3 linked regions of the Homo sapiens genome follow. The protein of the gene in region 2 purifies or fractionates together with the protein of the main gene of each other region. This does not show direct contact. Each region holds a gene or a part of one and is shown on either strand. Other genes may lie near its edges.

Region 1 (2,413 bases), on a different chromosome or scaffold from region 2:
TTACAGCCTGAGCTCTGCCTCCTGCCAGATCAGTGGCGGCACAAGATTCTCATAGGAGCACGAACCCTATTGTGAACTGCACATGCAAGGGATCCAGGTTGCACGTTCCTTATGAGAATCTAATGCCTGATGATCTGAAGTGGAACAGTTTCACCCAAAACCATTCCCCACCCAAAACCTTTCCATCCATGGAAAAGTTGTCTTCCACAAAACCAGTCCCTGGAGCTAAAAACGTTGGGGAGTGCTGCCCTAGCAAAATGCCCCAGTCAGGTCCATTTCTACCCAGATGGTGAGGTTGGGCGGTCCAGAGGAGCGGGCCCTGATGAGTGTGTGGGCGTCCAGGTGCAGTGCTGGAAGTTTCCAGCCTGGCTCCATGATCATAGAGGGTGGGGCTGGGGGGTTTGTTAGGAATTGACAGAGGATACCTAAAGCCTCATTTCAGTAGCTAGAACAGCCTCATTCCAATAGCTCATAACTGGGGTCCACAAACTATAGAATTCAGGGGTCTGTGCACTTGGATTGGAATAGAATACAACTTTATTTTCAGTCATTTCTATTTCCTTGGTTATGAACAAAGGTAGCAAAGTGCAGTTGTATCAGCAGTGCCAATAGAAATTACAGAGTTTTTCATATCCCTTTACAGTTTGCCACAGGTATCTATCTTAAAATATTGTTTACACTCATCTCTCTTCAGTTTACCATTGTTTAATAGGCCTACCCTCGATCTTTTTATTCAATATGTTAATAAAGAAACCTATACACATAGTATCACGTTATACATTTTAAAAATATTTTGACAACTGTATATAAATATAACTAGCTTACTTTGTAATCCTACATATTTTATGTGTATGAAAATATTATTCTGAAATTAGCCAGGCATGGTGGTGCATGCCTATAGTCCCAGCTACTTGGGAGGCTGAGGTGGGAGGATCACCTGAACCCAGGGAGGTCGAGGCTACAGTGAGCTGTGATTGCACCACTGCACTCCAGCCTGGGTAATGGAGTGAGACCCCATCTCAAAAGAAAAGAAAAGAAAATATGATTTTGAGAAGCGATCCATGGCACAAAAAATGGCCAAGAGCCCCTGACTGAGAGGGGCCCTGTTGACACTCACATGCCACCCGCCCAGAGTGAGGGCAGCTGCCCAGCTGAGCAGGGACCCCGCAGGAGGAACCAGAGCAGGAGAATCCCTGGCACCACCCTTGCTCCAGTACACACCCATGGGTGCTCAATGAAGAAGTGAGGACAACTTGCTGCCATCTTCAGTTTGATGGAATGGCCTTAGGCCTCTGCTGCCGATTGTGAAATCATCGGCCTCTTACCTAAAAGCTCAGGAGGATTTAGGGGGAATGCAGATAGAGCACATGAGTTCACTGTGTAATGAAGGAAGGGGAGCCTCCCAGCATTAGATCTTAGGGAATTGTTCAAATTTAAGGAAGCAAAAGCCAAGAGTTGGGAGGAGAGGCAGGGAGAGATTCCTCCCTCCTCAGCTGTAGCTATAGCATTGCTTGGGGCCATGGAAAAACAGTTTTCCACACCCTAGCAGACAGCAAAAGCTATTTCAATGTGCCAAGTGAAAGTTGAGCCATGCCCTCATCCAAACTAGCCCCCAGCCTCACGCAGGCAGCTCCGGGCACCCGTGCACACTGGGTTCACCCTTACGGAGCTGTTCCTCCATCAGGCAGCTCTGGGCACTGGTGCACACTGGGCTTGCCCTTACGGGGGCTATTCCTCCATTTCTGTCTCCCCTTGTGCTGCCCCTCACTGGGGGCAGCACCACCCCAATCCACGCCAGGCAAGCCCTGCCCTGGGACACCGCTGCTGTCTGTTTTCATGGATGACTCAGGCCCCAGCAAAGATACTCTTTGTTCCTCAAAAGAGGGAATGGAGGGTACACTTGCTCTTAGGAAATGTCCCCCACCTTGCAGTCTGGCTTCCTGATCTCTCTCTGTTAAGATCTTTTAAGCCACCCCATCAGCCACAGAACGAAGCGCATCCACCAAGAATACCTGAGCCCACATCTCCCCCTCCCTCGCCCCGCCAGCTCCTCTGCCCCCCACAGCAGGAGAATGGACTTGTTTCCTATTACACAGGCCATGTGCCCACTGGGCAAGACCCAAACCCGTGGAACCCCCACTCCCTCTACTCCCCACCCCCTCCACCCCCCACCTTGCACTGCTGAGCACCTCCACCGCCTTTTGAAGAAACTTCACAGATTTGAGAAAACTCTGTGGGAGGGGCTGAGGTTTAATTCCGGAGTGGGGATGGCCTAGGAGGACACCAGAGGATGAAGCGGGGGGTGGGGTCTGGGAGTCTGAAATAATAGAGATTTTCAGGAGAGCAGCTCAAAGGTACAGCCCAGGGCCGCCCACTTCTGCTTCCTGCTGGGCTCTCTGCCACCTTCCATATG
Region 2 (2,365 bases):
TGTCAACAGAAGGGATACCGTCTCCTTGAAGAGGAAACTCTGTCACTCCTCATGCCTGTCTAGCTCATACACCCATTTCTCTTTGCTTCACAGGTTTTAAACTGGTTTTTTGCATACTGCTATATAATTCTCTGTCTCTCTCTGTTTATCTCTCCCCTCCCTCCCCTCCCCTTCTTCTCCATCTCCATTCTTTTGAATTTCCTCATCCCTCCATCTCAATCCCGTATCTACGCACCCCCCCCCCCCCAGGCAAAGCAGTGCTCTGAGTATCACATCACACAAAAGGAACAAAAGCGAAACACACAAACCAGCCTCAACTTACACTTGGTTACTCAAAAGAACAAGAGTCAATGGTACTTGTCCTAGCGTTTTGGAAGAGGAAAACAGGAACCCACCAAACCAACCAATCAACCAAACAAAGAAAAAATTCCACAATGAAAGAATGTATTTTGTCTTTTTGCATTTTGGTGTATAAGCCATCAATATTCAGCAAAATGATTCCTTTCTTTAAAAAAAAAAAATGTGGAGGAAAGTAGAAATTTACCAAGGTTGTTGGCCCAGGGCGTTAAATTCACAGATTTTTTTAACGAGAAAAACACACAGAAGAAGCTACCTCAGGTGTTTTTACCTCAGCACCTTGCTCTTGTGTTTCCCTTAGAGATTTTGTAAAGCTGATAGTTGGAGCATTTTTTTATTTTTTTAATAAAAATGAGTTGGAAAAAAAATAAGATATCAACTGCCAGCCTGGAGAAGGTGACAGTCCAAGTGTGCAACAGCTGTTCTGAATTGTCTTCCGCTAGCCAAGAACCTATATGGCCTTCTTTTGGACAAACCTTGAAAATGTTTATTTAAAAAAAAAAAAGATGACAAAGAAAAACAGAGAGAGAGAATATTGGAGATGTCCTGAATTTTAATAGGGTACGCGCCATTAGGGCTTTTTGCGCTAAAGGATGAACATGTACTGGTTTATGTGGACAAGCCATTATACCACCAGACTGCAATGCCAGTTTCCTCTACTGCAAACAGTGTTCTGTGACAAAAAAAAAAAAAAAAAAAAGAAAAAAAAAGAAAAAACAGAAATATATCCAGCTAACAAGATCCTGGTGTCTTGGTGTTTTATTTTACTAGGCATTGCCTCATCCCAGGTGTCAGCTGAGTCCTAGCTCTGAGGGACCTGGGCAGACAGGCGGTAGGTGTGACCTGGATCCACACAGCTACTCTGAGAAAGCTGGTTTTGCCCAGGAAAGTCTTTGGGAGAAGCTAAACTAGATCGGTGGTCAAAGTGTAGTCCCCAGACCAGCAGCATCAGCTATCATCTGGGAACTTGTTAGAAATGTAGATTCTTGGGGTCCACCTTGAATCAGAAATCCTGGGGGTGAGGCCCAGCAACCTTTTCAGCAAGGCCTCTGGGTGATTGCTGTGCGCACTGAAGTTTCCGAACCTCGGAGCTAGAGGGATGGATCGACTGCATGTCAAGCTAGAGAAGACCAGTCTATCCTTAAGGAACTGCAAGCCTGGCCAGGCAAAGCTGCTTTTTAAGTGGAGGAAAGGGGGAGGATAATATGCCCGGCAGTTCCGGGAAGAGGCACTTCACGCCTCCACGGGAAGCTCACTAGTAAGTGCAGGCATACCTCAGGAACGTCGCAGGTTCAGTTCCAGACCACCACAGTAAAGCGAACTTTGCAATAAAATGAGTCATACACGTTTTAGTGTCTCACTGCATGTGAGTTATGTTTACACTGTATTAAGTGTACAATAGCATTATGTCTAAAACAGTGGGTTTTTTTTGTTTTTTTTTTTTTGACACAGAGTCTCGCTCTGTCGCCCAGGCTGGAGTGCAGTGGCACGATCTCAGCTCACTGCAACCTCTGCCTCGTGTATTCAAGCAATTCTCCTGCCTCAGTCTCCCGAGTAGTTGGGACTACAGGCATGTGCCACCCCACATGGCCATTTTTTGTATTTTTACTAGAGACGGGGCTTCACTGTGTTAGCCAGGACGGTCTCAATCTCCTGACCCCGTGATCTGCTTGCCTCAGCCTCCCAAAGGGCTGGGATTACAGGCGTGAGCCACTGTGCCCGGCCCAACAGTGTACATATCTTAATTAAAAATAATTTATTGCTAAAGAATGCTAACGATCATCCGAGCCTTAGGCAAGTTGTACTCTTGGCTAGTGAAGAGTTTTGCCTCAATGTTGATGGCTGCTGACTGATGAGGGTGGTGGTTGCTGAAGGTATGGGTGGCTGTGACACTTCCTTCAAATAAGACAATAATGAAGTTTGGGGCATCAATTGACTTCCTTTCACAAGATATTTCTCTGTAGCATGCGATGCTGTTTGATGTAGCACTTTATCCACAGAACTTCTC
Region 3 (3,658 bases), about 140 Mb from region 2:
CTTGTCTCTGTCCCTAAACTCTTGCTTGGTCTTTGGTTCTCCCAGTCCTGCATGCAGCCACCACCAAGTGGTTCCTGTGTATGGCAGGATCAAGGAACGACAGGAAGGGGCCTAGGTTTGGGGGTGGAGCCAAGTGGGGGCAGGGGCGGGGCCTGACCTTGGAAGAAGGCGCTGAATTCCTGGGGCAAAGCAGCAGGAGGGAACTTGTATTTGCTCTTCTCCTTGGAGCTGATGACTTCCCTGGGGGCAGTGAGGCCAAGTACATCAGCCCGGCTCTCACCACTCCTGGCCGTCACCCCTCCTTGGGCCCAGCGCGGCCATCCTCTCCCCACCCTCCTCTGGGTTCCCTTCCTGTGGGCTGGGTCTCACCCACTGCGCTGGCGCCGCCAGGTTTGGTAAGGGTCAAAGAGGCCCTCGCAGAGAAGCAGAGCATGTAGGGCCACATTCTCCAACTGCGTGCCTCGGCCCTGGGGTGGTGGGCATCCTTTCAGCTGTAGGTGTGGGGAGAGAGGGTTAGCCCCGCCATGGCTACCGCCTGCCTCCCTGCATACACCCTCTGCCCCCCAAGGTAGAGGCCACTTCACCTCCGCCACCAACTTGGTCAACAGTGCCAGCACTCGGGGCACTAGCACTTGGCCCCGGCCTGCCTCTATGTTCTCCAGGTTCCTGGGGGAGTCAATGATGAGAGAGGTCACAATAATACACCATGCCCCTCCTTGTCCCCTCTCCCTCTGGCCCACAGTTCTAGGCCCCTGCTTGTAGAGTGGACAACAGAGACACCTGCAGAGAATGATGAAGAGCTTGAGCAGCAGGAGGGCTTGCTCCAGGTCAGCCTGGTGCAGCTGTTCGGCCAGCACATGCAGCTCATCCAGTGGTAGCAGCGGGACCTCTGCACCTGCCTCCTCTGGCCTGCAAGGAAAGGGGAGACACGGGTGCTGAGGACCCCTCAATCTCCCTGCTCTGTCCCTGCCCTCAGTGCAGATCCAGCCTCACCTTCGTGGCTCCAGAGAGGACAGTGAGATGCTCTTCTTGAAGGCACCTACAAAGGCCTTCAGCCACTGCTGCAGGTAACCCAGGTCCTTCTGTAGGCAGAACAGGGGAACAGTGGTGGGGGGCAGGAGGGATGCAGTAAACAGGGCAGGGACAAGGGGATGTAGACAGAGGCGAAGAATGAATGGAGGTGGACAGAGGGCATGGACAAGGGGTTAAAGGCAGAGTGGAGGGTGTGGAGAAGGGGAGTGGGGGACGGGGGAGGGAGGGCAGGACATTGGAAGGTCAGCATCAGAGAGTTAGGTACATACTGACCACTTTTCCAGGCACCCCACTGCTTCTCTCAGCCTCCCAGTTTCTGCTCCCACCTCCCTAATGCCTGCAGTCCTAGGCAGGTCTGACACAGCCAGGGGAGGGGCGTAAGTGGGGTGTGGCTGTGGCCCACACTGGTGCTAGGGCTGGAGAAGGTGTCCCACACAGCAGCCACCCCCTACCAAGAGCCTTGGGCTGGGTCCTCATCTGCCATCTTCACCCAGCCCAGCAGCCACCACCTTCAGTAGCCTTCTTTAACTGTGGATCCCAGGACACACGTGTACCATTAGACAGGCAGACCCAGACATGCGCACATCCTCATGTGCGGCCCTGCCTTGCCCCGGGAACCTCCACCCACCCTTGCTGGTTACCTGGACCCCAGGCCCCAGAGCTGGTTCCATGGGCAAGAGGGGCAGTGGCTAAGCCCAGGTCTAGGCGCTGCCAGGAAAACTTTGGTGTGAACGGGAAATGTCTCCTCCCGCCCCGGGGCTGGGGCAGGAAGCGCAGAGTCACGGTGGGGGAGGGGGACCGCTTCCTCCCGGCAGACCGCAGGGATGTGGGGGGGCCGGGGCACCCTGGGCCCCAGTGAGAGAGGCTGCAAGCGACCTGGCCTGCACAGAGGGTGGGACCTGTTACAGAGGGGTGGAGTCACCTGTCCTGGGTGGGGCTTGTGGGCCAAGACTAGTTTTACAAGCATGAGGTTGGCGCCTGGAAGAGCTCTTATCCAGGTGAGGGTTCTGATCCTGCTGCTGCAGTACCCTTCACTTAAGGCACCCACAGCTCCCTGACCTGCGCGCAAGGCCTCAGGCCACAGGGGTCGATGTAGAAGACTCAGCCATACCTTTGTCCCGCCCCGCCGCCCGCCATGTCCTGGCCACCTCATCTGAACTCTGCAGTTCTCTTCGCTCAGGAACACAGCTGATAAATCCTAGCCTAGCCCGTATCTGCTCTAATCTCTAAGCCCCTCCCAGGGGCCAGGGGTGGGTTGTGGCTTATACAGGAGCTCCTCCAGGCTGGCCCCATATGGAGCTCCTAACCAGCTGAGTCCAAAAGGCAGCCTTCTTTCCTAGAGTCAGAGAGGTGGACAGGGGGAGCTAGAGTGGAAAAGGATGAAGAGGCAAGGGACACATCACAGTCAGCACTCAGCAGGCCTCAGGCTGCTCCCCAGGGGCCATGGGCCTCATACCCAAGGACCTCCAGAACTATCTTTGGATGGATGGCTAATTTTTGCAGCCTATGGGCCCAGACCACGGGCAAGGCCTGAATGGCCCCAGGGCAAGAGGCCTGACTGCAGCAGACCTGAGCCAGATCCCCAAAAAACCTAGGCAGAGCAGCCGTCCACCCTGTGATTGGGGAACTCCCTGGTACAGTTTAGTGCAGATCTGAAGCCCAGACAACTCAGAGAGGTGCCAGGGCCACCATGGTGCAGACCCACACAACCATGACATTTTGTCTGTCAGTTACATTTATTGACCTCTCCACCCTCTCCTGCTGGCAGCCTCCTCCCGAACAATCAGCAAGGAGCCCAAAATACCCAGATCCTGAGACAGCAGAGGTGGCCAGGGGCCCTGGACCATTTCTTCTGAACCTCTCCCATTGCAGATGGGGAAACAGGAGGCCCCACAGGGGATGCCTTATCTACTACTTTGTCTTCAGTGTACCTTTGAGGATGCTAAAAGCCAGACCTTAGTTCTAGGCCAGGACCACTCATGATTGCTAGCAAGCCAGCCCATGAGGACCATGCGGGCCCCGATCCTTGCCTCAGTGGCCCCACAGAGACCCCTAGCTGCCTTCAAAAATGTCCCAATACTGTCTTCCTCTCTTCTGCCCCTCAGTCAAGCTAGTCACTCAAAATGTGAGTCTTCCTGCCAGCTGCAGCTCTACTGAGCACCTGAAAGCCCAAATTTGACCGTGTCTAACCCCTCCCCATAAAGGCTCAACTGCTGAGCAGCATTCCAGGCTGCTGGTCCAACCAGAACCTGCTTCTCCAGCTTCCACCTCTCCCCCTCTGTGGTTCACATCCTCCTATCCAGGCCTTTTCCCACCCTATGCCCCACTGCCTTGTGTGACTTGGGCTTTTGGTACTTGAGCAGGAACCTCCCACCCTCCTGGTGGCCATCACCTTGATCAGCCTTCCCAGCACAGGGGTGGGTCCCTCAATCTCTACATACTCCTAGAGTATGTAGATAGTACTTTCTGTCCCTAGAACCACACCCTTGGCCTGTCCAGTCCTGTAAACTTTCAGCAGATTGGGCTGAGCTGGGTTCAGGGCTGGGACAATCAAGACAGCCTTCAGGGGCTCTGAAAGGGGATGACGAGGTCTCCAAAGCACAGTATTAGGCAGGGGTGGGGTGGC

The links.
Region 1: the proteins of IGF2BP2 (region 2) and MAPK13 purify together in Homo sapiens (co-immunoprecipitation; one large-scale study listed by IntAct). This does not show direct contact.
Region 3: the proteins of IGF2BP2 (region 2) and NBEAL2 purify together in Homo sapiens (tandem affinity purification; one large-scale study listed by IntAct). This does not show direct contact.

Annotation. Positions count from the first base shown.
Region 1 is NC_000006.12:36,142,628-36,145,040, reverse strand, and holds the end of MAPK13 (mitogen-activated protein kinase 13), read right to left. Parts: 3' UTR 520-2,413; downstream 1-519. UniProt on the Homo sapiens protein: Serine/threonine kinase which acts as an essential component of the MAP kinase signal transduction pathway.
Region 2 is NC_000003.12:185,642,472-185,644,836, reverse strand, and holds the end of IGF2BP2 (insulin-like growth factor 2 mRNA-binding protein 2), read left to right. Parts: 3' UTR 1-1,707; downstream 1,708-2,365.
Region 3 is NC_000003.12:46,986,093-46,989,750, reverse strand, and holds part of NBEAL2 (neurobeachin-like protein 2), read right to left. Parts: intron 1,762-3,658; exon of another isoform or gene 1,704-1,761; coding exon of another isoform or gene 1,674-1,703; intron 1,390-1,673; exon of another isoform or gene 1,306-1,389; intron 1,083-1,305; coding exon 994-1,082; intron 910-993; coding exon 781-909; intron 667-780; coding exon 585-666; intron 492-584; coding exon 370-491; intron 241-369; coding exon 158-240; intron 83-157; exon of another isoform or gene 1-82. UniProt on the Homo sapiens protein: Probably involved in thrombopoiesis. Plays a role in the development or secretion of alpha-granules, that contain several growth factors important for platelet biogenesis.